Regions from separate parts of the Homo sapiens genome. Here region 1 is linked to region 2. A link means that fine-mapping ties the variant in region 2 to the expression of a gene that starts in the linked region. Tissue or cell type: whole blood. Region 2 holds a variant in brackets; the other region holds the start of a gene. All regions are shown on one strand. Distances are from middle to middle.

The links. PIP is the estimated chance that this variant, and not a neighbour inherited with it, causes the effect.
Region 1: CRIP3 starts here. The variant in region 2 is fine-mapped to the expression of CRIP3 in whole blood (TOPMed, PIP above 0.99).

Annotation. Positions count from the first base shown.
Region 1 is chr6:43,305,929-43,310,928 of GRCh38, forward strand. It overlaps CRIP3 (cysteine rich protein 3), which reads right to left and starts at 2,898. Exons shown (of 8, transcript NM_206922.3): 1 at 2,822-2,898; 2 at 2,387-2,481; 3 at 1,911-1,968; 4 at 1,684-1,815; 5 at 518-589; 6 at 291-385; 7 at 139-196. The coding sequence starts at 2,864. It also overlaps the pseudogene RPL12P47. RefSeq lists an enhancer at 1,558-2,415.
Region 2 is chr6:43,415,494-43,420,808 of GRCh38, forward strand. It overlaps LOC105375065 (a long non-coding RNA gene), which reads left to right. Exons shown (of 6, transcript XR_007059585.1): 5 at 1,816-1,948. Among named protein-coding and RNA genes, the nearest start is that of ABCC10, 9.4 kb to the right of the region's middle. The variant C/T (reference allele first, on the strand shown) is at 2,051.

The DNA of each region.
Region 1 (5,000 bases), 110 kb before region 2:
GGCCTAGAGGGAACTTGGTGGGGGGGCCAGGGTATGCTTAACCACAGGGGAAGTTGTCCACACATACCCACAGACCATGTACATGCCATACTTCAGGCATGTACATGCCATCCCAGTGTCTGGGATGGGGCTGCCCACCTTTGGGGCCAAACAGGTAGCCGTAGCAGGGGACGTGGCAGTAGGGGACTCCATCATGCTGAGACACAGAGAGAAAGAGAGCTGTCTCAGCCTGGTTCTCTTCCCATCTCCAGCCTCCTCCCAACATAACCACTCATTCCTGCCCTGCTCACCTCAGCATGACTCCCAGCAGTCAGGGTCTTGTGGCAACGCTGGCACCTCAGACACGGTCGGTGCCAATTTCTGCCTAATGACATCACCTTCTCAGCTGGTGGTGGAAAGAAGTGGTAATGCTTCCATTCTAGGGGTAGAGTAGGGAGACCTACCTGCCTTGGATCACCTCCCTCCCCCTTGCTGCCCACCCTGTATCCCCCTCCCCAAGTTTTCCACTGTTACTTACCAAAATAGACGGGCTCCCCACAGCCAGGGCACAGCGAGGTCTCCCCAGTGAATGTCTTCATATGGGGAGGGCCTTTAAAGGGGAAGAGGCCCTGGCTATGTCTGAGGTGGAGATGCCCACCAGCACCTGCCTGCATATGGTGCTGTCCTCTTTCAAAAGCCATGCTCATTCCAGAGTGCCCCACCCAGGCGCCCAAGAGTCTGCCTTCTACAGGCCCAGAGCTGAGCCCCCTCTGACTCCACCTCCTGCCCCATCCCTATGTGTATTAGGGACTATCTGCTTCCTTCTCCTGCTTCCTTTTCATCCTCCCAGGGGCTCACGTACCCACCATCCCAACCCTGTTAGCAACTCAATCCTCAGGAAACTTGAGCTGATATAGGAGCTGGCCACAGCACGGGTGTCAGGTGTTGGGGAGCACAGTGTCATTGCCTACTTCAGGGAATGGAGGGAAAGAACAGGGACCAGAGGAGAAAAGTTGAAGAATATGAGAGGCTGGCCTTATCCCAATGACTCCTCTCCTTTAGATCATTCCTTCCATGGCCCTGGCCTGGGACAGACCTAAGTTCCTGGCCAGCTTTGCCTCTGACTAGCTTTGTGGATGGACAGTCATTTGCCCTGTCTGGATCTCACTTTCCTCACCTGTAACACACGAGGAGAGGGGATAATGCCATCTGCCCAATTAACCTCTTTTTTTTTTTTTTTTTTTTTTTTTGAGATGGAGTCTCGCTCTGTTGCCCAGGCTGGAGTGCAATGGCATGACCTTGACTCACTGCAACCTCCGCCTCCTGGGTTCAAATGATTCTCCTGCCTCAGCCTCCCAAGTAGCTGGGATTACAGGCATGAGCCACCACACCTGGCTAATTTTTGTATTTTTAGTAGAGATGGGATTTCACCATGCTGGCCAGGCTGGTCTCGAACTCCTGACCTCATGATCCACCTGCCTCGGCCTCCCAACAATTTACCTCTTAACTCAGCAGCTCACATGAGGGAATAGAAAGAAAGAAAGAAAAAAAAAGCGGGGAGTAGATAGAGAAGACTTTGCCAAGAATGAAGTTGTGAGAATGTGAAGCAGAGGGCTGGATAGGAGACTGCCACCTGGCCCAACCTCCGCTCCAGCTTGGGGAAGGGTCGGGAGGAGGACTGGGAGGAGCTGAGCCCAGCCTTACTTTTCTTGCCTTGGGGGAGGCCAGTCCTTGGCCTGGGAGGGCTGAAGCTGCTGGGGCTGAGAGGAGTGGTGCAGCCAGGGCTGGGAGTGGGGGGATTGTACAAGTAGGAGCCTACACCACCAATGTTCACCCCTGAAGAGAGAATAGGGGAGGTCAGGCTTGAGCCCCCAGCTCCCAGCCACAAGGAGGGTTCTGCTGACCCATGGCCCCTTAAGGCTGGTACTTACCCCTGGGTCCAAAGAGAGCCCCATAGCATGGCTTGTGGCAGTATGGCCTCCCATTGTGCTGGGCACAAGCAGAGGGAAGTGGGTTACTCAAGGCCAGCGGGAGCCATGCCCCACAGGCCTTCACCCCAGACAGGCTGCCAGGTGTGTCTGTCCACTGGCTGAGTCTGGTGGGCCTGGGAGGGGTGGGGGATGGGCTGGCATGCCAGCATTTCCACTGTGGTCAAGGGAGGAAGAGCAAGAGCAGCTCAGAAGGTGACGCTGCTTCCCACTCACCCTGATCCCCAAAACCATGGGATCCACAGTCACGACCCAGGTTCCCAAATTCCTGGCTGGTGTGGGGTCCACCAGGTGGGCGGCCTTGGGGTTGGCTACTGAGGTTCCCTTTGGCAGGCCTCCAGTGCTGAAGTTGGGGGCTGGTGCCTGGGGGGTGGGAGGCAGTGATGTAAACAGGGCAGTGCTCCCTGGCCAGGTCTTACCTCTGCATGCCCGCCAGGGGACAGGATGCTGTGGCAGCGCTCACATTTCAGGCAGAAGCGGTGCCAGTTCTTGCCCAGGGAGCTCACCTTCTCAGCTGTGGAGGACAAAGTGGAACCGAGCTGCGAGGAGCCTGTCCAAGCATAGGGCCCCTCCTTTCCCTCTTCGGCCCTCTAGGGAATTAGGTTGGCCTGCCCTGCTTCCTGGAGATGAGTGTCTCCAGGAGGCCAGCTCCATCCCGCTCCGGTTTCACACTCCCCACAGAGCTCTCAGAGGAAGGGAGAAGACCCGAGTGGGAGCGGGTGGTGCGGAGACTACCAGCCGCTGCAGGTGAAAAGGGTGTCTGGGACTACACTGTGGCTAGCCCTCCGCGTCCTCAGGGAATCCAGCGGCTCCCATTCGCCCCATCTTCTCCCCCTCCGCAGCCCGGGCCTCACCGAAGAAAACAGGTTGCTGGCAACGCGGACAGGTCCAGCTCATAGCTCCGCTCCAGGCAGCGCACGCGGCACACAGTAGGTACGCCGCTGCGGCTCAGTTCCGCCCCCTCCGCAGGCTCCACCCACGGCTCAGCTTTGAGCCTCCCTGGGCGGAATCCGCGGTTCCTCGGCGCTCATTGGTTATCAGAAATTTAGAACCACTCCACTTGGGAGACAAAGGGCTATTTCGCTGTTACTTCAAAGAGCATTAAAGCCTCGGTCAGACCCACGGGGAGGAGAGAGGATCTTGAAGCCGTGGACTCCAGACTAGGAAGGCACATGTGTAACGAAGACACCTGGACAGGGAGCTCTACTAGTTTCTGGAGCGGTAAGGACAGGAAAAATGTCCACAGTGCAGACATCATTAAAACACTACTCTCTCCAAAGCGAGGGAGTAGGCATTCTTTGAAATGCAAAATTCCACCTTGGCAGTATAGCAAGTGGTTGAAAGCAACAAAATCTGGAGCCCGTCTCTGGTACCCTACTCTTTGACTTCAGGCAAATTACTGAACCTCCCTCTCTGCCTCCATTTTCTCATCTGTGCAATGAGTATGATAACAGTCTCTGCCTCATAGGATTGTTATGAGAGTTAAATAGGTTAATACATGTAGAGTGCCCAAACAGCGCCTGGCATGTAAACGCTGTAACAGCTATAGCTATCACTATGATGGATCCCTTAATGAACTCAAGACTCGGTTTGGAAGCCTCAGAACATGGTCTGTATACAATCGTTTACTCCTAAAGCTGTAGGGTGGCTGGACACAGTGGCTGACACCTGTAATCCCAGCACTTTGGGAGGCCAAGGTGGGCGGATCGCCTGAGGTCAGGAGTCCAAGACCAGCCTGGCCATCGAGGCGAAACTGCGTCTCTACTAAAAATACAAAAATTAGCTGGGCGTGGTGGCGCATGCCTGTAATCTCAGCTACTCGGGAGGCTGAGGCAGGAGAATCGCATGAACCGGGAGGTGTGGAGGTTGCAGTGAGCCGAGATCGCACCACTGTACTCCAGCCTGGGGGACAAGAGCGAGACTCCATCTCAAAATAAATAAATAAATAAAAATGAAAACCAACTACACATTTCTAATCTGGTTTGCTTTAAAATTTTTAAATATTTGTGTTTTTAATGAATGTATTTATTTGAGGCAGGGTCTCTGTTGCCCAGGCTGGAATGTAGTGGTGCATCGTAGCTCACTGCAGTCTCCACCTGCCCGGCTCAAGCGATCCTCTCACTTTAGCCTCTGGAGTAGCTGGGACTACAGACACATGCCACCACACCTGGCTAATTTTTGTATTTTTTGTAGAGATGGGGTTTTGCCATGTTGCCCAGGCTGGTCTCGAATTTCTGGGCTCAAGCGATCCACCTGCCTGGGCCTCCCTAAGTGCTGGGATTACAGGTATATGCCCCCATGCCCAGATAAATATTTGTTAAAAGTAGTTCAATAGACTCTCTGGCACCATTAAAGAGATCCTGGGGACTGCCCAGTCTGTGGGCTGTAATGTTGATGGCCGCCACCCTCATGACATCATAGATGATATCAACAGTGGTTCTGTGGAATGCCCAGCCAGTTAAGCACAAAGGAAAATATTTCAATAAAGGATCATTTGACAACTGGTGGAAAAAAAAAAAAGTAGTTCAATAGTGCTTCAAAGGATATTTCAAGAAATTTAAATCCAGAGAATGGAAGAAATATTTGCAAATCTGATAAGGATCTAGTAACCAGATTATATAAATAACTTATAATGCAATAACAAAAAGACAACCCAATTAAAAGTGAGCAAAGTATTTGAATAGATGTTTTTCTAGAGATACACAAATGGCCAATAAGCACATGAAGAGATGCTGAATATCAATAGTCATTAGGGAAATGCAAATTAGGACCACAATGAGATACCATTTTATACTGACTAGGATGGTTATAATTAAAGAGACAAATATTGGCAAGAATGTGGCAAAATTGGATCCCTCATACATTGTTGGTGGCAACATAAAATGGTGTGGCCACATTGGACAACAGTCTGGCAGTTCCTCAAAAAGTTAAACATAGAGTTACCATATGACTCAGCAATTCCACTTCCAGGTTTATACCCAGGTATATAAGAGAAATGAAAACATATGTCTATACAAAAACTTGTACATGAAT
Region 2 (5,315 bases):
ACCCACTATAATGGGTATAATAAAAACTCAAACAATAGGTGTCAGTGAGGATATAAAGAAATTGGAACCTGTATACATTGCTGGTGGGATTTTATTTTATTTTATTTGTGAGACAAGGTCTCACTCTGTCGCCCAGGTTGGAGTGCAATGGTGCCATCATAGCTCACTGCAGCCTTGAACTCCTGGGCTGAAGCAATTCTCTTGCCTCAGCATCTTGAGTAGCTGGGACTACAAGTGTGCACCACCACGCCTGGCCATATATGTGTGTGTGTGTGTGTGTGTGTGTGTGTATGTATTGATTACTGTATATATAAATATATATGTATTTTATTTATCTATCTATCTATATATTGTTTTGTTTTGTTTTGTAGAGACCAGGTCTTGCTTTGTTGCCCAGGCTGGTCTTGAACTTCTGAGCTCAAGCAATCCTCCTGCCTCAGCCTCCCAAAGTTCTGGGATTAAAGGCATAAGCCACCATGCCCAGCTGCTGCTGGGATTTCAAAATGCTGCTGTCACTTTGCAAAACAGTTTGGTAGCTCTTCAAAATGTTAAAATTGGAGTTACCATGTGGCCCAGCAATTGCACTCCTAGCTGCAAAAAAAAAAAAAAAAAAAAAAGAAAGAAATCCTATATCCACAAAAACCTTGTACCTGAATAACTTATAGCAACATTATTCATAATAACTAAAAAGTAGAAACATGAATGTTCATCAACTGATAAATGGAAAATCAAGTGCAGTATATCTGTACAAAGAAATACTATTCAGTGTTAAAATGAAGTACTGACACATGCCACAACATGGATGAACCTTGAAAACATGCTAAGTGAACAAAGCCAGATGCAAAAGGACACACGTGTATGATTCCATTTACATGAAATGTTCAGTATAGGCAAGAAAATCTATAGATACAGAAAAGTGTATTCATGGTTGCCAAGCACTGCGGCAGGTGGGTTGAAACGGGGACTAATTGCTAATAGGTATGGAGATTTTTTAGGGAGTGATGAAAATCTTCTCAAATTAATTATGGGCTGGGCTTGGTAGCTCAGGCCTGTAATCCCAGCACTTTGAGAGGCCAAGGCAGGCAGATCATCTGAGGTCAAGAGTTCGAGGGCCAGGTGCGGTGGCTCACGCCTGTAACCCCAGCACTTTGGGAGGCTGAGACAGGCGGATCACGAGGTCAGGAGATCGAGACTATCCTGGTTAACACGGTGAAACCCCGTCTCTACTAAAAATACAAAAAATTATCTGGACGTGGTGGCAGGCACCTGTAGTCCCAGCTACTTGGGAGGCTGAGGCAGGAGAAAGGCGTGAACCCGGGAGGCGGAGCTTGCAGTGAGCAGAGATCGCGCCACTGCACTCCAGCCTGGGCGACAGAGCGAGATTCCGTCTCAAAAAAAAAAAAAGAGTTCGAGACCAGTCTGGCCAACATGGCGAAACACCATCTCTACCAAAAAAAAAAAAAAAAAAAAATTAGCTGGGCATGGTGGTGTGCGCCTGTAGTCCTAGCTACTCAGGAGGCTGAGTCAGGAGAATCACTTGAACCCGGGAGGTGGCAGCTGCAGTGAGTCAAGATCACACCACTGCACTCCAGACTGGGCAACAATAAGACTCTATCTTAAAAAAATATGTATATGATGACGGTTGCATAAATCTGAATGTACTAAAAAGTCACTGAATTTTACACTTTAAAGGGGTAAATTCTATGGTTTGTGAATTATATCTCAATGAAGATGTTCAAAAAATGGTGACCTGGCCGAGTGGCAGTGGACTTGCCCAGCCCCAGCTCTAGCTACACTTGTCCCCTTGCCTTCCAGATAATCAGCTTCTGATAACTGTAGAGAAAAGTATGGGCAGAAAGGAGAAAGTAAGCCAAGAGGGGAGCTGGAAGTCAGGACCTACTGCCTTGGAAAGCCATCGTGCTGTGAGGACTCTTCATCATTCCTCAAGGTACTTCTGCTTCCTTCCCTTACCTCCCACTACCTCCTAGGCACTCCACTGAACCTGCCCACCTCCACTCCTGCCATCTCTGCCCACCTCTACTCCAAGCAT[C/T]TGGGCATCCACACTCAGTTCACGTCAGATCTGGGTGTAATGAGTTTGAAGTCAGTTTTCAAAGTTGTATTAATAGAATCTTTCTTTGGCCACCCAGGTTTTGGAGAATTTGGTCATCCTTCCACTTTATGGACTGTGAATTATCTTGTGACCAATGATTTCCTCTTCTTCCCACCTAGGTGTTACTTCACTTACCAACAATTCCCCAATTCCCCAAAGTGGAAGGAAGGAGACAAACTTGTACCTTTGACTCATTTTTCAGAAACTATGGTGTAAAGGTCTCTGGGAAACTGGGTGAAACTAAAGGGCCATATGATATTGTTTTCATTTATTTTTATTTTTTAACCTGGAAAATGTGAAATGTGTAGATGCAATGCCATATGATGTTGAGGAATTATTTGTTTTAAATTATCTTTCCTCCTTTATGTCCTGGGCAAATATTAATTAGTTGGTTATTTGTAACCATCAGAAAGGATCCTACTGATGGCATGACTCCTTTGCCAAACTTCTTATCAAAAATAAGGACTCTGGAACGTTATGAAAATAAGAGGTCTATGGCCATACCACCCTGAAAACACGCAATCTTGTCTGATCTTGGAAGCTAAGCAGGGTTGTGCCTGGTTAGTATTTGGGTGGGCTATAGGCTTCTGGCATCCCATTCCCTCTTTCCCTAAAGAAAGAAAGAAAGAAAGAAAGAAAGAAAGAAAGAAAGAAAGAAAGAAAGAAAGAAAGAAAGGAAGGAAGGAAGGAAGGAAGGAAGGAAGGAAGGAAGGAAGGAAGGAAGGAAGGAAGGAAAGAAAGAAAGAAAGAATAAAATGAGGGGACCACATCCTCTCCCACCTACTTCAGAGGGCTGGTAAGACTAGGGTCCTCCCCACCTGAGCACCAGCTTGGGGTGAAAGGGAGGAAGAGGAATCCTTGACAGAAGCATTATCTGTCCCTTTAACCCTCCTTTCAGAAGTGGACTCTCTAAAGAGTCCTCTTGTCCTCTGACTTAACTTTACCTCATCCAGCTGTATACATGCAGTGAAACACACTTTAACTGTCCCAGATACTTGGGAGGCTGAGGCAGGAGGATCGCTTGAGCACAGGAGGTGGAGGCTACGGTGAGCCATGATCATGGCACTACATTCCAGCCTTGATGCATAGAGAAAGACCCTGTCTCAAACCAAAACCAAAACCAAACCAAACAACAACAACAACAACAACAAAAACCCACACATACACTTTAGGGCAGACCTCTGTAGTAGGATGATGTATTTGTGTACAGTAGCTAAAACTTGCAAGTAGCTGCTTACCCAGTCAGCCAGGCGGCCATGGGTTTTGTTTGTTTTTGTTTTTGTTTGTTGTTGTTGTTGTTGTTGAGACGGAGTTTTGCTCTTGTTGCCCAGGCTGGAGTGCAATGGCGCCATCTCAGCTCACCAAAACCTCCAACTCCTGGGTTCAAGCCATTCTTCTGCCTCAGCCTCCCGAGTAGCTGGGATTACAGGCATGCGCAACCATGCCCAGCTAATTTTGTATTTTTAGTAGACGCGGGTTTCTCTATGTTGGTCAGACTGGTCTTGAACTCCTGACCTCAGGTGATCCACCCACCTTGGCCTCCCAAAGTTCTGGGAATACAGGTGTGAGGCACTGTGCCCAGCCATAGCCATGGTTTTTAATGACTAAGAAGAGAAAGGGAGGCTGAGGAGGGTGGATCACCTGAGGTCAGGAGTTCGAGACCAGCCTGGCCAACATGATGAAACTCCGTCTCTACCAAAAACACAAAAATTAGCCAGGTGTGGTGGCGTGTGCCTATAATCCCAGCTACTCGGGAGGCTGAGGCAGGAGAATCACTTGAACCCAGGAGGCGGAGGTTGCGGTGAGTTGAGATTGTGCCATTGTACTCCAGCCTGGGCAACAGAGTGAGACTCCGTCTCAAAAAAGAAAAAAAAAGTTTATTTTTTCTAACTTTCTTATTTTCTTGGGTTAAACTAGAGCTCTTAAATTAACCTGCCTGCCCATCAGCTTTCCAGACTAGGAGTGATTATATAACTTACAATTCTTACTGGGGACCTGAAAGCCCCAACATGCTCTGAAGCCTGGAAAATTAGGTGGAAGAAGGAAAAGATAGAACCTTGGCACAGAGAGAAAAAAAAAGTGGTTAGCATCTGTGCTGGACTAAAAAATATATAAGTATGAATGTTAGATTTTGTGAGTTACATCAGGGACACATGTGCATATCTGCATTTGATGTGTGTGCAATTCTGTGGTCAAGAGGGTGTCTGTGAGTGAGAAGACACATCCAAAGATTTAATGAGAAGAATAATGATTTTGGATCCATCTGCCTTGCTCTCAGTGCCAAGAGGAATGGTAGGCACAGGATTCACTGCAGGGGTAGATGGTGAAAGCAGTCAGAAAGTGATGGGTTGTTAGGGGTACCCCTGAATAATGTCTCCCCACCTAGTTAGCTCTTGCTTGAAATTTAGCAGTTAGCTAACTGTGTCTCTAAGGATTTTAAATTTTTCTTCATACTTTTCTTCATTTCTACATTTTCAAGACATACCCACGACTGGGTAATTTATAAAGGAAAAGAGGTTTAATGGACTCACAATTCCACATAGCTGGGGAGGCCTCACAATCATGGTGGAAGGTGAAGGAGGAGCAAAGGCACATCTTACAAGGCGATAGGCAAGGAGTGCTGAGGGTATTGCAATTATAATCAAAAGGTTATTAATGTAAAATAATATATTTTAGTACTTGACAGTAGTTCAAGTAAAAAGTCTTGAGGGAGGTTCCTGATTCAATTTAGACCATGAGGCCTTGTGTTAAGGGTGTGGATTGGGTATTGCGGATCCTGATCTAGAACATGTGCTGTGATGTGTACTAGTTCTATAATCCTCGGCAAGGCTCTTGACATCTGTGGTGCTTAAACCTGAGTGCAAGAATCACCCAACTGCAGATTGTAGGATCCTCTCCTAGAGAGTCTTATTCAGCAGGTCTAGAGTGGACTTTGGAATCTGCATTTTAATAAGCAGCTCAGGTGACTCCAAAGCAAATGCTATATAGACCACTCTTTGAAACACACTATTCCATATTCTGCAAATCTCCATTTTTAAAAACTTTATTGTGAAAAAATTTCAAATATATGCAGGCATAACTCATTCACCTGCATCTCGCTTTATTGCACTTTGCAGATTACATTTTTACAAATAGAAGGTTTGTGGCAACCTGGTGTTGGGCAAGTCTATCAGCATCATTTTTCCAACAGCGTGTGCTCACTTCG